Linked DNA regions of Homo sapiens: region 2 is linked to region 1. Evidence: fine-mapped expression QTL. A gene starts in region 1. The other region holds a variant in brackets. All regions are shown on one strand. Distances are from middle to middle.

Region 1 (10,305 bases):
GATGTGCATTTTCCCACAGTTTACCTCTCTGAAATCAAGACATATAATTAGTACTATGTCATGGTTCAATTGCTGCATTGTTTTCTTTCTTAATAGTACAGAAAATAACGGTGCCTTTTACAGTTGATGACATGTATTAGAAGAAAGATGATAGTACATATCTTGCCAAGGCAGAGATACTGAGGGGAAGAACAGATTTTCTTGGGGCAAGAGAAAGGGGTGAAATAGAATTAGTTTGGTTTTCTATATGTTAAGTTTGAGAATGACCTATGTGCAGTTGAAAATTTAGGGCTGAAACTCCAGCGGGTGATGAAGTATGTTCTGAAATTTATGTGGGAAAACTCCTTGAGTTCTTAAGAATGTGATTATTTGTACCTCTTGTTTTCCAAAAATAATTTCAAGTGACAGATCTTCACTATAGGTAGAAATTCTTTCATTTGTTGCCAAAGCCTCAGCTGCACTGCTAGATGTCATGATAATTTTATAAGATGATAAGGTATTAAGTTTTTCAAATAAATTAGCAGTGAAAAATGAGATGTGATAAAAAAATTAGTTTGCAGCCAATAAAGTGATGGTGGAATTTTGTCATGTCTATAGTGATTGTATGTGAAACTTCTGATAGAAATGTCTGGTTTTAATTTATTTTTTTCTGGATGCTTTACTAAAGACCCATGTGCAAGGGGAAAAATTAAAAACAGACAACTTTGGATCCACTGTAACTTTCACATGCCATCAGAAAGTCTAAGATAAATGTTTCATTTGGCAATCATGGATGAAGTGCAAGCAAAAAGTAAAGTCAATTTACATTTTAATACTCCTATTTGAAATAATAAAATGGTATTTGGACATAGGCATTTTACTACGCTTACTGGTAGAATGCATAGTTTGGTTGAAGTTATAAAAAAATGCACACAGCAAATTATTTCTGTTCCACTCTCAGGTCTATATCCTTATTTGAAATGTAAGAAAAAAGGAAATGAAAGAGGTTATTACATTTTTTTAATGCAAGCCCAGTAAAAGGTAAATTTATCTTTTCCGATCTCTTGCCAGCAACGTGGAGCTCCTGTCCCCAATATCTCACCAAGTTCTTCAGGAAATGGCAACTGATCAAAGATGAAATTTTAGAAACCAATAAGATCTATAGACCCAAGACAGCAATCACATTAATTTGTATGAGCTTTTCCTAAGCAAAATAGCAAATAGAGATAGCACTGTTTTTTTTCATTTTTTTGACATTTTAAAAGTTCCAGTTACTTTCATTCACTTATTCCATACATCCTTTGGAGGCTGCTATATGTGAGGGACTAGGCTAGATACTGGGAAAATGATAATCAAAATCAGATATGATCCTTGTCTTCAGATAACTTACTTTACATTGTAGAGAAAGTGACAATGATAGTGTATTAAAACTGAGACATGAGAGGTGCTACGAAGAAGGAAGATGTGATGCTAGGAGAGTCTACAGAAAGAGCTGACATAAAGGGAAGTCAGAGAAGTATTTTTCATGTAAGAGCATAGGAAAAGATGTTTTTGGATGCAGAATATCTAACTAATGGAGGTTTAAACAATTAAGTCATTTATTACCTCATGTAACAGGAAGTTTGGAGGTATTTTCATCAGGTTTGGTTTAAAAGTCGGTTCAGGATTGGCTCAATGATGTCAACTAAGCCCTAGGCTCTTTTCCTCTCTCTATTCCTCCACCCCTTCTTGTTAGCTAAGCTCTTATGCTTGTCCCTTCTAGTTCAGAAGATGCCACAGTTCTAGGCATTATGTCCTCATATAACTGCATTCAGACGCAGGAAAAGAGGTATTTCTTCTTGTATGTCTTTTTTTTTTTTTTTTTTCAGAAGTCTTTTTTCTCAAAAGGGATTTCAGATCCTGTTGGCTTTGGACATGTTCATGTGCTAGCTGCAGGAGCTAATGGGAAAGCCAATATACAGCAACTTTAGTCTCTATCATAGGAGTCAGGCTCTGTCAGCAAGGATGGCGGAGGTGAAAAATGCCTGTAAGACGTAGTTTCTACCATGGGGAGTGACTCTGAAGGATGTGACTCACAGCTGTGATCTGAAGGGCAAGGAGGATGACTAGAGAAGAGGCAAAGAAGTGGACTCTAGTAGTTAACAACTTCTGGGGCAGCACATTGAAATAACAAAATGGCACTTGGACCTAGACATTCTATTAAGCTTAATGGTACAGCCTGTGGTATAGGTGAAATAGTATAAATAAATGAACATACCAAGTTATTTCTGTTCCATTCTAACACCTATATCCTGTATATAAGGTCAGAAAGGACCTCAGGAATGGGCAGCTGAGGGAATCCAGCAGAAAGTGAAGGGAATCAAAGATTCCACTAGGGTTCTGGCAATGCTGATGTTGGATTATGGGCTGTACAAAAGACAAAGAGACTAGAGACCGGGGGCTTTCCTGGGGAATTCAGATCCATGGAAGTTGGGGACTAGAATAGGTGTTAGGTGGAGAGGTTGAGCTTTGGTTGGTAGGGCCAGTAACAGGGCTATAGGAAGTTGCTCTTATGAACACTGGGACACATCCCATTATTCCTTCACATAGAAAATCTTTATTAAAATTCACCCAGACACCAAAGCCACCCTTGGGCTTAAAATTTCTCTCTGAAATAGAGAACCCAGAAATAGCCACACACAAGTATGGCCAACTGATATTTTGACAAAGGTGCAAAAGGGACTCCATGGAAGAAGGATAAACTTTTCAATAAGTAGTGCTAGAGCAATTGGATAGCCACAAGCAAAAACCTGAACCTAAACCTCACACCTATTAATGGAAAACTTAACTCACAAAAATTACATAGACTTAAATGTAAAAGGCAAAACTAAAACAACCTTTGAAAGAAAACAAGATAAAATCTTTAGGATACAGGATTAGAGAATAGTTCTCAGACATGACAGCAAAAGCACAATCCATAAATTTAAAAAATGAATAAACTGGACTTCATCAAAATTAAAAATATTTGTTCTGTGGCAGATCTTGTCAAGAGAATGAAAATACAAACTACAGATTGAAGAAAATATTTGTGAATCATGCATCTGACAAAAGACACATCTAATATATGAAGAACTCTCAAAATGTACAGGTAAAAAACCAAATAATGCTAATTAGAAAATGGGCAAAAGACATAAGGACATTTAACTGAATGGAATATACAGATGGCAGATAAAAACATGAAAAGATATTCAACATTATTAGCCACCAGGGGAATAAATGTAAAACTGTGATGAGGTATTACTGCACATTTATTATTTACTTTAGCTCAGCTAAAACAAAAATAGCAATAATAGAAAATGCTGGTGAGGATATGGAGAAACTGGATCTCTCATACATTGCTGGAGGAAATGTAAAATGTTACAGTTACTCTGGAAAACAGTTTTTAATTTCTTTAAAAAATGACACATACATGTATCACATGACCTGGCAATTGCACTCCTGGGCATTTATCTCAGAGAAATGAAGATTTTTGTCCACATAAAAACCTGTATTCAATTGTTTGCAGCAGTTTTATTTGTAATGGCCCCAAATGGGAAACAATCAAAATGTTCTGCAATAGGTGAATGGTTAAACAAATTGTGGTACATCCATGTCATGGAATATTACTCAGCAATAAAAAAGGAATGAACTATTGATAAACACAACAACTTGGATGGGTCTCAAGTGCATTATGCCAAGTGAAAGAAGCCAATCTTAGAAGGTCATGTACTGCATGAGTCCATTCATATAACATCTCAAAATGTCAAAATTATAAAAACAGAAACAGAGATCACTAGGGTTAGGAGGGCAGGTGTTACCAAAAAGGTTAGCACTAGGGAGATCTTTGTGAGGGTGGAATAGTTCTGTATCTTGATCATGGTGGTGGTTACACAAAATATGTAGTAGAATGACATAGGACTACACAAATACTTTATATCAATGCCAGTTTCCTGGCTTTGATACTGTACTAGAGTTATACGAGATGTAATCACTGGGGGAAACAGGTACACAAGACATCTGTACTATCTTTGCAACTTCATGTGAATCTATAACTATTTCAAAATGAAAAGTTTGAAAGAAAATTTTCTCTGAGGCATCTCTCCCTTGCCTTCCTTCATCTTGTGCATTTCTTTCCCTGAGTATGACTTTTTCTCTTTCTTTCTCCCTTTCCCTTATGTACTGGGTTTTCCTTTAACGGTCCATAATGCCAAACTATGTCATTCCCCATCCTCCTATTGTTCCTATTTATTTAATGAAGGTTATGTTTTCATGTGCTTAATTTTAAAAGCAGGAAAGTACTAACTCTTTAAACAAATTTCTTAAAAAACAAAACCCAAAACTAACCTGCTTTTTATTTTATATAATTCAGTTAGTCATTATTCTTTAAGGTCGGAAGTCCACAATACAAACATGTTTCCAACACTTGTATTGGAAGATAATTTTTGTTTTATATGCATGGAGCATTAATATCATTCTTCATGTCTATGGATTATGAACACACACACATTCAGGATTTACTGGGGAAACAGTGACATCAAATATTATGTTCTATTGATTCTTCATATAAATCTACATGTCAAAAAATAATCCTTTGCCAGATCACGTATCCAGATTTTTCGTTTGGAAAATACGAACATTACTACTACAGAATATCAAACTGAATACAGCCCTGTCCTGAGGGCTTGCAAAGTGAATCTGGCAATACTTTGGAAAAGTACTACTGCAGGTTCTCAAGGACCCAAAGAGCTCTCCAGCTTTTCCAGTGGGTTCAGCCCCAAATATCCTAATTTCTTCAATAAATTACGAGTTGCAGGTGTTTAAATATGCAAGTATATTTTGGTCTTTTCGTTATCATTGTAAAACACCAGTCCTAACAAGCAGTAAAGATTACACTTTATGGTGGTAATATTTACAGTTAATGCACTTCTGCATTTCTTCCCGCACATTTTTCTTCTTACTTATTTAAACTAAGCGTTTCCCCTCTTTTTTTAAGCCCCAGTATTAAAAAGAAAATAAAATCCCAAAGAATTTCGCAACATTGCGATTGCACTGGCTTGAGAACGAAGGAAGTTAGTCCCTTGCGGTGATCCGTCCTTTCATCCTGGCGTTTGCCTGCAGCAAGATGGCGGCGGTGTCAATGTCAGTGGTACTGAGGCAGACGTTGTGGCGGAGAAGGGCAGTGGCTGTAGCTGCCCTTTCCGTTTCCAGGGTTCCGACCAGGTAATAGAATTTTCACACTTTTCTTCAAGCTTCTTGGGTCCCTCCATTTTTGCGGAGTCTCTGCTGGCTGAGTTCCGGAGGAGGCCTCGGGGAAGGCGTCCTCTGTTGACCCTTTTCTCGGGAGAAGTCGGGCGGACTAGGGACTGTCTGCTATCAATGGGCGTTGGCCAGGCGAGTGAGGGCGTGAGTGCGAGGCCGGGGAGGAGGACCTGTGGTTTTCTGGAAGCTTTCGTATTCGGCTTGTCGCTGAGGGAGAGGGTCCGTGGAGGTTTTGCCTCCGGAGCTGCAAGCTGAACCTTAGCCCTCAGAGAAGGGGAGGAGTCTCACTGATTTCTGTTTCCACTTTCTGCATCCCTTCCATTTGTCACCTGTTTGCCCACCACTCCAGTCCTTACAGAAGGGTTAAATCACTGTATCCCTTCCATGGTTTTAAGTGGTTTTAATTTGGTTTCTGCATAGGAAGATTGTTTATTCATCAGTCTGCTTGGGAGGAAAACTTGTTTGGAATTCAGTGTTAGTAAAAATATCACTGCTAGTAATATTGGAAGGTAATTTTTAAAAGGCTGGTGGTAATGCCTGGAGGTTTTCTAGGGATTTTGTTAAAGCCTCACAATAATTCAGGGATTGAATTGAGTTGTTGAGGGCTCTTTGCGTCCTTGAGAACCTAAAGTAGTACTTTTCCAAAGTATTGTCAGATTCAGTTGTCAGTTGATTGAGTTGTTACTGTTTTTCCTTGAAGCATTTTTGTGATGATTTTTTTTTTTTTGGCTGTATTAACCTTCCATTTTCTATTTTTCAGAATTTCCTGGAGTTTTTTAAATTATAGTACTAATGCTATACGTACATACACACACATATTAGAACAAAGATTGGAAAGACTGGATGGAGAGATTTGAAGGGGGTAGGAGGTGGATGCAAGTGGTTAAAAGTTGAAAGGAAGGTCTAGTAGAATGCTAATTGATTTAGTGTTAAATATAAATGGAATGCAGAGAATTAGGATGAGTTAATTCGGAAGAATTTTTAAGGATGAGTTTTATTAAGGTTTAAATATAGTGGGTGTTGGGTGGGAAAGAAGAGAGTGTCCCGTAGGGTCCGTGGCTTATGAAAAGGCTTGAAAGCATTAGTTAAACGATTACTAAATACATAGAATAGAGTCACTCAAAAGTAAGGGTGCTAAGATTGGGGAAAGGCAAATGATGTTTGTAATTAAGTGTTCCATATATGGAAAGTATTTTTCCTTTTTCTTTCTCTTTTTTTTTTTGAGATACATTCTCACTCTGACGCCCAGGCTGTAGTGCAATGGCGTGATCTTGGTTCACTGCAACCTCCGCCTCCCGGGTTCAAGCAGTTCTCCTGCCGCAGCCTCCTGACTAGCTGGGATTACAGGCGCGCACCACCACACCTGGCTAATTTTTGTATTTTTAGTAGAGGCGGGGTTTCACCATGTTGGTCAGGCTGGGTTAAGTATTTTTCTAAGGTAAAATACTTCACTGGTTAACTTAGAGTTAATATAGCGGTGACCAAGATTAGCCCTTCCTCCCGTACAGATTATAGGGATTAATTGTCATTCCCAGATAATAATGTACTCATGGTAGCCCCAGAACTGAAAACAAGTTTGAAGGGACCACTGGTTTATGGCTAATCAAAACATGGCTGTAATTTTAAGTCAAAGCCATTTTGTCAGCAATTATAGTAATTGAAGTTGAGATTAGATTTTTGAAACTCTGATGATAATTGTTACTACATATCCAAACTTAAGAGTTTTTGCCTGCAAATGTAAGAGATTTGAAAATAAATCATTTAATCTTGAAAAAAAATCTTAATGCCAGGGAAGACGTTTTTTAAATACAAATTAACACATTTATTTGTTTTCTGTGCCACATTTTTACCCTAAGAGCTTGTCATGTTCATCCTAATTTGAGGGAAATTTATAGACCCTCTCCCTTACATATTGTTTGTTCTTCATCCTTAAGCATTCTTTTTCCATTATGATTTGATAGTAATGAGGATCTGAAAAAGGTGAGTAGAAAGAACCAATTAATGGGAAAATCTACATCTAAAATTCATTTTATTGTAATGCTTAGAAAAACATTTGCAAATCATGTAACATTTCAGATCATTTGAATAGAATATGGGAAGTGGAATCAGTAAGGTAAGGAGTGGAGTAGGGAACTGAAGGAAAGGAAGGGCCGGGCGCGGTGGCTCACACCTGTAATCCCAGCACTTTGGGAGGCCGAGGCGGGCAGATCACAAGGTCAGGAGATCGAGACCATCCTGGCCAACACGGTGAAACCCCGTCTCTACTAAAAATACAAAAAATTAGCCAGGCGTGGCAGCGTGCGCCTGTAGTCCCAGCTACTCAGGAGGCTGAGGCAGGAGGATGGCGTGAACCCGGGAGGCAGAGCTTGCAGTGAGTCAAGATCGCGCCACTGCACTCCAGCCTGGGCAACAGAGCCAGACTGTGTCTCAAAAAAACAAAAAAAAAAAAAAAAAAGAAAAGGAAGGATGCTGTTAGCTGCTACATTAACATATTAATTCAATTATAGTATATCATCAGTGAAAAGCAAAACAAAGAATGCAACAACACATACACACAAGAGAGAAAAAATCTAGTAATGTGGGTGATTGAGCTGATCTAGTTACTTACTGAGCTTGTGCTGTAGTGTTGGTCTCAGTTTCCATGTGCTTCTCATTTCCCTGTACCGAATGTGAGGAGGCAAAAAAAGGGGTTAAATTGTCTACATTTTTTTTTTTTTTGGAGATGTAGTTTCGCTCTTGTCACCCATTCTAGAGTGCAGTGGCACAATCTCAGTTCACTGCAACCTCTGCCTCCCGGGTTCAAGCGATTCTCCCGCCCCAGCCTCCAGAGTAGCTGGGATTACAGGTGCCCACCACCTCGCCCAGCTAATTTTTTTATTTTTAGTAGAGATGGAGTTTCACCGTGTTAGCCAGGCTGGTCTCAAACTCCTACCCACAGGTGATCCACCCGCCCCGGCCTCCCAAAGTGCTGGGATGACAGGCGGGAGCCACCGCGCCCATCCCTAAGTTGTCTACATTTATCCTTACTTTCCCTGACTTTCCTAAGAGATTTTCCAGGGTAAATTTAACTATTCTAAATGCATTTATCAGCCAGATGAAATGGCACTCTATTTCAAAATAGCTATACTTAAGATATTTGATGCAGTGATGTTTTTATTCACTTATTTAAGTGTGTTCATGTATACTTATCTCACCTTAGTATTTACTAGGTCTTGTGTTTTCCTCAAACAAGTCCTTAGGGTGTTAAATCACCCAGAGGGTTTTAATTAATGACTGGTGGGGACTGAGTGTTTGGGACCTGTTTGTGAGGTCTCTTTTATGCCCTGATCTGTGGCTTTATTCTGTTGCTGTGTTTGGTTCTTCAGCATTATATAAGCTAGCATGAAATTGAGTCTTCAATTCGATGGGGAATTGAATTTGAACCCTCCAAATAGTAAGCAGTCCTTAAGGTTGACAAGAATTCTGTTTGTTAACACCTTGCTGGGAAATAGGCTAAGCTCAAATTTAGGACACTTAAGACCAATAGGTTCACTTCTACTTCAGATAAACTAAATAAATTCCTCTCCTAGGGGCAGCTATTTTTGCTATCTTTGTAACACATCCAAGCCAAAGTTTGAGAGCTTGAAAGATTTCTAATATGTTTTCTGATAGGTTTATTTGTTTTGTTTCTTTTCCTCTTTCCAAATGCCCATACTTAGTTTTCATCAGTAGCAGACATCTTCGTTGAATTTTTGTTAGGAAAATAATTATTATATTTTGAGACAGAGTCTCATTCTGTTGCTCAGGCTGGAGTGCAGTGGCGCAATCTTGGCTCATGCAACCTCCACCCTCTGGGCTCAGGTGATCCTCCTGCCTTAGTCTTCACAGGCAGCTGGGACTGTAGGTGTGCTTGCCACCACGCCCAGCTAATTTTTGTATTTTCAGTACAGACGGGGTTTCACACTGGTCTTGAACACCTGACCCCAAGTGATCCGTGTGCCTTGGCCTCCCAAAGTGTTAGGATTACAGGCATGAGCCACCGTATCCAGCCGGAAAATTAAATATTTTAATATGTAATGTCGGCATATAGTAAGCCTTCCCTAGATAAATGGTAATTTTATTATTGGTTTGAATGGCCTGAATGTTTTTCATTTCTTTAATCTTGGTTGTAAGTATTGTGATAGATTGTGTTATTGTTTAAAGTATTCACTACCACTGTCTGCAACAGGATTACATATCCAAAAACCACTGGCCAAATGACTTGCTTTATCCAGTGAAATGTTAGTGGAAATGATATACCATGTCAAACAGGAGCTTTGAGAGCTCTCCTGTGTTTTGTCATATTCCTTTTCCCTCTGATGTGAGGTAGGTGTACTCCAGGTGGGGTCTGCTGTTTTAGCCCACATCTTGGATTGTAGACTACATAGTGCAAAGCAGAAACTGATTCTTATTGCAAGATTTTATAAAATATAAATTGAGTGAAAAATAAACCTTTGCTGTAAGCCACAAAGGTGTTTGGATTGGTTACCTCAGCATAACAACCTATGCTGACTCTATTTTATATACACTCATATTTGCAAGTGAGCAGGTTTTAGCACATGGACCGATATATCAGCAGTGAGGTCGCAAGCTTTTTGAGGACACAACCACATTTTTGTTTATTTGTGTGTACTTCATGGCATCTAGTGTAATGGCTTGCATGTAGCAGGTAAATGCTTATCTTACAGATGAATAAATACATATTTAGAGATGAGCGATTGTGAGGAAAAGCAGGGAGCATTACGCAGTGTTTCTTTTAATACCCTCATCAGTGATAGCCAGGTAGGCACTAACCTTTATAAATATGAAGATAAACTATCTACAACACATATTCTAATTATTTGCAGTGGTCTGAGTGTAGGATATTCACCTAGAACTCTGTTAACTTTTGGATTGAAGTTGTCTTATGAATAGATTTTGTATTCATACACTTTGACAAGTGTTCAGACACTTCTTTTGTATTCAAATTTAAAAATGCAAGAGGAAATGAATGTTTGGGAAAGGGTACCCTTGGAACATGAGAACTTTTTT
Region 2 (10,305 bases), 180 kb after region 1:
AAACAGGCACTCTTGTACATTGTTGGTGAGAATGCTAAATGATAACAAACTATGTATATTCTTAGACTTATACTTGTAGGCACTTATAATAATACTTGTAAGAATTTATCTTGAAGATACAACTCCAATACATATTAAAATACACCTCCAGAAAACATAAAAATACATACATATACACAAACTGATTACAGCATTAATGTAATTGAAAAATGTTGGGAACTACTTAAATATCTAAGCATAAGAAGTTGTATGAATAAACTATGGAACATCCACACAACTGGGTATTATATAGATGCTTTTAAAAAAGAATGAGAAAAAATTTCATATTAACTGATATGGTATGATTTCTAGAAGACATTGCTTACTGAAAGAACAAGTACAAGACGTTATATATATGTACACACACACACTGTATATAAGATATTCACATATACAGTATATATACACACATATATACATACACACAGAGACCCAGATATGTGTGTGTGTGTATATATATACACACACACACATATATACATACTTACATATTAATGTTGCCTTTTGTGTAACAAAAAGACAAAACCAGAAAACAATGAAACCCTTTACCTACTAAAGGGATGGGAGAAAAACATGCAGAAGGGATATGGGAGTGAGTGATACCTCTCCAAATATATCTTTTAGTATTATTTTGATTCTTGGAAGCATGCTAATGTTCTACATGTTTTTTAAAAAATTAAATCAATAGGGGTGAGAAGAGAAAAAAGAAGTCCTAAAATGTAAAGCAAACTGGACCAAATGGTCCCGCATGTATTTTAAATGAATACCATAACCACAATGAAGAGGAAAAAAAGAATGAATTTATCCTAGTTACTTTGAACCCACTATTTTACTTTTTACCTAGTCTTGGATTGGGTGGGATAGTGGGAGAGAATTTCAAACAAATCCTTAACTCTTTTTCGTAGCATTTTAAAATATAGTGGTACGGGCAACAAAATTCTGAAACAAATTTGGATGTATTATAAGATTGAGCAAATGAATAAATGTATTGATATTGTTAAGATTCAGAGTTTTTACTGAAGAAGAAGGGACAAACTAATATGGAACATGGAAAGGAAAGAAATAACTTTTGTGGGGCGAACTGGAATCGGAGGAATAAATGTAAACCCATTTCTAAAATATGTCTATGCGTGTCTGTATACTTGTATATTTACATATACATAAGTTTCCTAATTTTGTCCACTTAAGAGCATGAGCAAAGACACTTCAGCATGACTATAGCACATTTAGCATCAAGATCTTGATCTGTAATATCCTCTCTCCCTGAAATGAATTAAAGCTTCTCAGAAAAATGACTGAGCTTAGGGCTAGGGCAGGGTAAATATGAGATCAGTCTAGAACATCTTGATATACTAGAAAGCAAGAACACATTACAAAAGGATAATGAACAAGAACACAGGATCCAAATTAAAGGGGCTGCCACTTGTCAAATCTGAAAAAATTAAACAAAAATTTCTGTACAGTAACAAAATATAAACCATTGGAGTGAAAAATAAGAACTCATGAATCTATACTGATAATAAATAGAGATAAACAATGGGGAAGAGATGAGGGCTCTTGCTTGTAAAATGCCAAATCCTGAGTGGTAAATACAGAAAGAATGCTAGAATTGGAAAATCAGAAATTTGTGATCATTATAGGCAAGATTTAATTAGGAAGCAGGAATTCTGAAATGCCTATATGAGAAAGTTAACAGATCCTCTTCTCAAAGAAACAGTGATAAAATTGGATGAATACATAAATTAGTTAATTAATAATAAAAAATAAAGTCTCTAGAAACTGACCACAGGGCATGTAACAAATTGAAAAACATCTGCTCAGAAAATCTGCTGCATCTCAGTAAGAAAAGTGTGAGTCTGTGTCATTCATGCCAGGGGTTGCTCCTATCTTCTCCATCTCCATGTTGCAGAAATTCTATACTGTGCAGATGGGCAGGCCATGAGGACTGGTAGCTACCATCCTCCCTCAGCAGTTCCAGACATAGCACACAGGTGTCACTCCAGGAGAGGCTGCAGCAGGTTGGGAAGAGCAGTAGCTCTCATTCCTACCCTCATGGCTCTGCCTTGTGTTGTGACAGGTCTGTCCAGGATGGACATAGCATGATGTAAGAGTGGCAGCTCCTTGACCCTGCCCGACAGGGTTAACTTTATTAGCAACAGAACATGAAAAAAGCAGGGACACTATTTAAAACAAAGAAGTGACATCTAGAAGGTGGTAGAATAGGAGGTTCCTGTATTCAAGCCCCCACAGAAACACTGATTTGAACAACCTACCCATGAGAATAATATGTTTATGTGATGCACATAGTCCAGCTCAGAGGTTCCACCACCCTAGTGGAGCCAAAAAATCCAAGTATAGATGCATAGAAGGTAAAAAGAACAGTTTCACTTTATGTGCATCACTCCTCCTTCAGGTAGCACAACTCTGCCAATACAGACCCCTTTAATCTACAATTTCTTTCTTGGGAAAGAGAGTGAAATAAGTGCCCAAGTTCCCCAGTCTTATGACATACTGTTCAAGAGACCCACTTCTGTATTGTCTACCCAGAACACTGAGATCAACATAGCTAAATCATCTGAAGACAACTAGGAGCAGTGAAAATGGACAGGGAATCATAGCAACCAGCATGCAGATCTCAAGAATCAGCACAGATTCTACTAACAGACACATGGACCTAAGAGCCTAACCACAAGCTCTTAGACACCTTATTGGGAGACCACCTCCTACTAACTAGCCAACAAGTGTCCCCAGCATTGTGCACCACTTTCTTTCTCCCCATAACCACTGCATGCAATTCTCCACAGAATTCACATGGATATAAGCTGATAACTCAACTCTGCTTAGTTGGAAAAAAGCACAAAACCTTAAACATTCAAGGGCACTGTCCTATGATAAATAAGCAGGAGACTTTCAGCACCCTATTAGATTTGCAATATTGAGAGAAAGCACACAATCCTAAGATGCCCCCTTCAAGAGAAAACAAAGGAGTAGTGGAGTAAGCACATCCAGGTAAAAGGTATGAGAAACCCCTAGATTCTAGCTGGGCTGACTGGAGAAGATATTTCTCTCCTGAAGCCAGTCAGTAAAGACTAGAGGAAGTGACTACTTCAAATGCCAAGACAGCAGTGCAAATTTCCAGAAGCATACATACAAAATCAAGGAAACATGATACCACCAGAGACAAAATAAATCTCCAGTGGCTGACCACAAATAAATGAAAATCTATGCATTACCTGAAAAAGAATTCAAAATAATCATGTTAAAGAAGTTCAGTGAGCTTTTTTTCTTGTACATTTATTTATGTTCCTTGTAGATTCTGGATATTAGCCCTTTGTCAGATGGATAGATTGCAAAAACTTTCTCCCATCCTGTAGGTTGCCTGTTTACTCTGCTGATAGTTTCTTTTGCTGTGCAGAAGCTCTTTAGTTTAATTTGATCCCATTTGTCAATTTTGGCTTTTGTTGCAATTGTTTTTGGTGTTTTAGTCATGAAGTCCTTGCCCATAACTAGGTCTTCAATGGTATTGGGTAGGCTTTCTTCTAGGGTTTTCATGATTTTAAGTCTTATGTTTAAGTCTTGAATCCATCTTGAGTTAATTTTTATATAAGGTGTAAGAAAGGGGTCCAGTTTCAGTTTTCTGCATATGGCTAGCCAGTTTTCTTAATACCATTTATTAGATAGGGAATCCTTCCCCATTGCTTGTTTTTGTCAGGTTTGTCAAAGATAAGATGGTTGTAGATGTGTGGTGTTATTTCTGAGGCCTCTGTTCTGTTCCATTGGTCTGTATATCTGTTTTGGTACCAGTACCATGCTGTTTTGGTTACTGCAGCCTTATAGTTTAGTTTGAAGTCAGGTAGCCTGATGCCTTCAGCTTTGTTCTATTTGCTTAGGACTGTCTTGGCTTATGTGGGCTCTTTTTTGGTTCCATATGAAATTTAAAGTAGTTTTTTCTAATTCTGTGAAGAAAGTCATTGGTAACATTGAATCTGTAAATTAGTTTGGGCAGTATGGCCGTTTTCATGATATTGATTCTTCCTATCCATGATCATGGAATGTTTTTCCATTTGTTTGTGTATTGTCTTATTTCCTTGAGCAGTGGTTTGTAGTTCTCCTTGAAGAGGTCCTTCACATCCCTTGTAAATTATATTCCCAGGTATTTTATTCTCTTTGTACCAATTGTGAATGGGAGTTCACTCATGATTTGGGTCTCTGTATATGATTGGTGTATAGGAATGCTTGTGATTTTTGCATGCTGATTTTGTATCCTGAGACTTTGCTGAGGTTGCTTATCAGTTTAAGGAGATTTTGGGCTGAGACGATGGGGTTTTCTAAATACACACTCATGTCATCTGCAAACAGAGACAATTTGACTTCTCTTTTCCTATTTGAATACCCTTTGTTTCTTTCTCTTGCCTGATTGCTGTGGCCAGAACTTCCAAAACTATGTTGAATAGGAGTGGTGAGAGAGGGCATCCTTGTCTTGTGCCAGTTTTGAAAGGGAATGCTTCCAGCTTTTGCCCATTCAGTGTGATATTGGCTGTGGGTTTGTCATAAATAACGCTTACTATTTTGAGATACGTTCCATCAATACCTAGTTTATTTAGAGTTCTTAGCATGAAGTGAGTTTTGAATTTTATTGAAGGCCTTTTCTGCATCTATTGAAATAATCATGTGGTTTTTGTCATTGGAAAGCGGACGAAGTATATGAACAGACAGACTCTTTTCAAAAGAAGACATTTATGCGGCCAACATATGAAAAAATGCTCATCATCACTGGTCCTTAGAGAAATGCAAATCAAAACCACAATGAGATACCATCTCATGCCC[G/A]TTAGAATGGTGATCATTTAAAAATCAGGAAACAACAGATGCTGGAGAGGATGTGGAGAAATAGGAATACTTTTACACTGTTGGTGGGAGTGTCAATTAGTTCAACCATTATGGAAGACAATGTGGTGCTTCCTCAAGGATCTGGAACCAGAAATACCATTTGATCCAGCAATCCCTTTACTGGGCATATACCCAAAGGATTATAAATCATTCTACTATAAAGACATATGCACACATATGTTTATTGCAGCACTATTCACAATAGCAAAGACTTGGAACTAACCGAAATGCCCATCAATGATAGACTGGATAAAGAAAATGTGGCACATATACACCATGGAATACTATGCAGCTGTAAAAAAGGATGAGTTCATGTCCTTTGCAGGAACATGGATGAAGCTGGAAACCATTATTCTCAGCAAATTAACACAGGAACAGAAAACCAAACACCATGTGTTCTCACCCATAAGTGAGAGTTGAACAATGAGAACACATGGACACAGGAAGGGGAACATCACACAGCAGGGCCTGTCAGGGGGTGAGGGACTAGGGAAGGGATAGCATTAGGAGAAATATCTAATGTAGATGACAGGTTGATGGGTGCAGCAAACCACTGTGGCAACTGCACGTTCTGCATATGTATCCCAGAACTTAAAGTATATTAAAAGGAGATAAAAGAACTAGGTAAAATGAAAAAAAAAGAAAATGTATTTTTTTGGTATATTTGCTAATCAAGATAGATGTTGATTGTCTATGTTATGCTGTTGTTATTCTTGTTGTTTATCCATTATTACTACTGAAGAGTAGTATTTTGACCATGCATTTACCCAATTTTCTGGATGTTGTTATTCTAACAGTTCATGTTCTGAGAGTAAAATATATTTTCTTGCTTTTCTAGTTAACATCCATGTCTTCTGTGAATAACTACAAATCAGAGTTTTTGAATCAGCTTCTTTCCTGGTTTTTTTTTCTCTTCCTTGTTTTGGTCCCCACTCAGACATCTCACACAGTAGTGAATTGTGAGAGGCCAGTCCACTCCCTCTTTTAACTTTATTGAAATACTTCTAATGTTTTTGTTGATTAGTATATTTGCAGAATTTTTCCCTTTTACTAAGAATTTTTTAATTATGCTATTTTGTATGTATAATCATCAAATATTTTATTCTAGGATTTAATGTTGTAATTTTCCTTTACTTTTTTGATTTAAAGAATAAAGTTTGAATTGTAAAAAAAAAGTATAACAAAAAAAGTTCAGTGAGCTATAAGAGAGCACAGATAAGCAACTACAGAAATCAAGAAAACAATACACGAAAAATTTTCTTTAACAAAAAAATAATAATAATAAAGAACCAAACAGAAACTCTGAAGCTGAAGAATACGATGACTCAACTAAAAAATACAACAGTTTCAACAGCAGAATTGACCAAGCAGAAGAAAGAATCAGCTAACTAAATTCATGTCATTTGAAATTATTCAGTCGAGGAACAAAGTGAAAAAGAATGAAAAACAGTGAAGAAAGCCTATGGAACTTATGAAACACCATCAATTGACCAACATATCCACTGTGGGATTCTCAAAAGGAGCAAAGAAAGATAAAGGAATAGAAAGCTTATTTTTAAAAATAATGACAAAAAAATTACCAAATTTGGGGAGGGAAATGAACAGTTAGATTTATGAATCCAAAAGAACTACAAATAGACTGACCATAAAGAAGTTTTCAGCATGACATTTTATAAACAAATTGTCAAAAGTCAGTGGCTCATGCCTGTAATCCCAGCACTTCAGGAGGCTGAGGCATGCAGATCACTTGAGGTCAGGAGTTCAAGAATAGCCTGACCAAAATGGCAAAACCCCATATCTACTAAAAATCCAAAAATTAGCCAGGCGTTGTGGCACACACCTGTAATCCCAGCTACTCAGGAGGCTGAGGCAGTAGAATCACTTGAACCTGGGAGGTGGAGGTTACAGTGAACCAAGATCACACTATTGCACTCCAGCCTGGGTGACAGAAGAATAAGACTCCATCTCAAAAAAAAAAAAAAAAAAAAAAGGTCGATGACAGAGGGAATTTTGAAAGCAACAAGAGAAAAGCAATTCATTTCATGCAATCAAAATCCCCATAAGACTCTAAGCAAATTTCTCAACAGAAACCTTGCAGACCAGCAGAATGGGATAATATGTTCAAAGTCTGCCTGGAAACAGACTTGGGGCTATTGGCAGGCAGGGTTGAGGGTATGGTGGTAGTGAGGCTGGCCCCTGTTTGCATGGGAACTAAGTGAGGCCTATGACGGTCAGCTTTCTCCCACTTTCCTGACAACCTGCATGACTCAGCACAGGCAGCCATAATCCTCCTAGGTACACAACTCCAGTGACCTGGGAATGTCATCCCACTCACCACAGCAGCTGCAGCAAGACCCACCCAAGGTGAGCCTGAGCTCAGACATGCCTAGCCCTGTCCCCACCTGATGGTGCTTCCCGATCCACCCTGGTAGTGGAAGACAAAGGGAATATAATCTTGGGAGTTCCAGGGCCCTGCCCACCACCGGTCCCTTTCCGTAACTACTATAGCTGATGCTTTCTGGAAAGCAAAAACTTCCTGGCAGGAGGCCAACCAGCACAAAAATAGAGCATTAAACCACCAAAGCTAAGGACCCTCATGGAGTCCACTGCACACTCCACCATCTCCCCTGGAACAGGCGCTGGTATCCACAGATCAGAAACCCATAGACAGTTTACATCACAGGACTCTGTGCAGACAACACTCAGTACCAGCCCGGAGCCAGGTAGATTCACTGGGTGACTAGACCCAGAAGAGAGACAACAAACACTGCAGTTTGGCTCACAGGAAGTCACATCTATAGGAAAAAGGAGAGAATACTACATCAAGTGAACACCCCGTGGGACAAAATAATCTGAACAACAGCCTTCAGCCCTAGACCTTCCCTCTGACAGAGCCTATCCCAATGAGAAGGAACCAGAAAACCAACCCTGGTTAAATGACAAACAAGGCTCTTCATGCCCCCCAAAAAATCACACTAGTTCACCAGCAAAGGATTCAAACAAGGAAGAAACCCCTGATTTACCTGAAAAAGAATTCAGAAGGTTAGTTATTAAGCTAATCAGGGAGGGACAAGAGAAAAGTGAAGCCCAATGCAAGGAAACCCCCCAAAAAATGATATAAGAAGCAAAGGGAGAAATACTCATGGAAACAGATAGCTTAAAGAAAAAATAATAAAAAATTCAGGAAACTTTGGATCCACTTTTAGAAATGCAGAATGCTCTGGACAGTCTCAGCAATAGAATTGAATAAGTAAAAATTCAGAGCTCAAAGACAAGGCCTTCGAATTAACCCAATCCAACAAAGGCAAAGAAAAAAGAATAAGAAAATATGAACAAAGACTCCAAGAAGTCTGAGATTATGTTAAATGACCAAACCTAAGAATAATTGGTATACCTGAGGAAGAAGGTAATTCTAAAAGTCCAGAAAACATATTTGGGGGAATAATTGAGGAAAACTTCCCCAGCCTTATGAGAGACCTAGACATCCAAATACAAGAAGCACAAAGAACATCTGGGAAATTCATTGCAAAAAGATCTTCACCTAGGCACATTGTCATCAGGTTATCCAAAGTCAAGACAAAGGAAAGAATCGTAAGAGATTTGAGACGGAAGCATCAGGTAACTTTAAAGGAAAACCTATCAGATTAACAGCATATTTCTCAGCAGAAACCCTACAAGCTAGAAAGGCTTGGGCATCTATCTTTAGCCTCCTCAAACAAAACAATTATCAGCCAAGAATTTTGTATCTAGCAAAACTAAGTATCATATATGAAGGAAAGATACAGTCGTTTTCAGACAAATGCTGAGAGAATTCACCATTACCAAACCACCACCACAAGAACTGCTAAAAGGAGCTCTAAATCTTGAAACAAATCCTGGAAACACGTCAAAATGGAACCTATTTAAAGCATAAATCACACAGGACCTATAAAACAAAAATACAAGTTAAAAATCAAAAACAAAAAACCAAAGTACACAGGCAACAAAAAGCACGATGAAAGCAATGGTACCCCACATTTTCAATACTAACATTGAATGTAAATGGCCTAAATGCTCCACTTAAAAGATACAGAACTGCAGAATGGATAAGAACTCACCAATCAACTATCTGCTGCCTTCAGGAGACTCATCTAACACATAAGGACTCACATAAGCTTAAAGTAAAGGGGTGGAAAAAGACATTTCATGCAAACAGACATCCAAAGCAAGCAGGGATAGCTATTCTTATATCAGACAAAACAAATTTTAAGGCAACAGCAGTTAAAAGAGGCAAAGAGGGCCAGTACATAATGGTAAAAGGCCTTGTCCAACAGGAAAATATCACAATCCTAAACATATATGAACCTAACACTGGAGCTCCCTAATTTACAAAACAATTACTAACAGACCTAAGAAATCAGATAGACAGCAACACAATAATAGTAGGGGACTTCAATACTCTACTGAAAGCACCGGACAGGTCATCAAGACAGAAAGTCAACAAAGAAACAATGGATTTAAATTATACCTTGGAACGAATGAACTTAACAGATATATACAGAACTCATCTAACAACTGCACAATACACATTCTATTCAACAGTGCATGGAGCTTTCTCCAAGATAGACCATATGATAGGTCATAAATTGAGCCTCAGTAAATTTAAGAAAATTGAAATTATATCAAGCACTCTCTCACACCACAGTGGAATAAAACTGGAAATCAACTCCAAAAGGAACCTTCAAAACCATGCAAATACATGGAAATTAAATAACCTGCTCCTGAATGAGCACTGGGTCAAAAATGAAATCAAGATGGAAATTTAAAAATTTTTCAAACTGAATGACAATAATGACACAACCTATCAAAACCTCTGGGATACAGCAAAAGTGGTGCTAAGACGAAAGTTCATAGCCCTAAATGCCTACATCAAAATGCCTACATCAAAATGCCTGAAAGAGCACAAACAGAAAATCTAAGGTCACACCTTGAGGAACTAGAGAAATAAGAACAAACCAAACCCAAACCCAGCAGAAGAAAGGAAATAACCAAGATCAGAGCAGAACTAAATAAAATTGAAACAAAAAATATAAAAGATAAATGAAACAAAAAGCTGGTTCTTTAAAAAGATAAATAAAATTGATAGACCATTAGCAACATTAACCAAGAACAGAACAGAGAAAATCCAAATAACCTCACTAAGAAATGAAACAGGAGATATTACAACTGACACCACTGTAATACAAAAAATCATTCAAGACTACTATGAACACCTTTATGCATATAAACTAGAAAACCTAGAAGTGATGGAAAAATTCCTGGAAAAATACAACCCACCTAGCTTAAATAAAGAAGAATTAGATAACCTGAACATACCAATAACAAGCAGAGAGATTAAAA

The links.
Region 2: its variant is fine-mapped to the expression of NDUFS4 in whole blood (TOPMed, PIP above 0.99).

What each region holds. Positions count from the first base shown.
Region 1 is chr5:53,555,544-53,565,848 of GRCh38, forward strand. It overlaps NDUFS4 (NADH:ubiquinone oxidoreductase subunit S4), which reads left to right and starts at 5,096. Exons shown (of 5, transcript NM_002495.4): 1 at 5,096-5,217. The coding sequence starts at 5,120. RefSeq lists an enhancer at 4,998-5,497.
Region 2 is chr5:53,732,054-53,742,358 of GRCh38, forward strand. No RefSeq gene overlaps it. Among named protein-coding and RNA genes, the nearest start is that of LINC02105, 82 kb to the right of the region's middle. The variant G/A (reference allele first, on the strand shown) is at 4,867.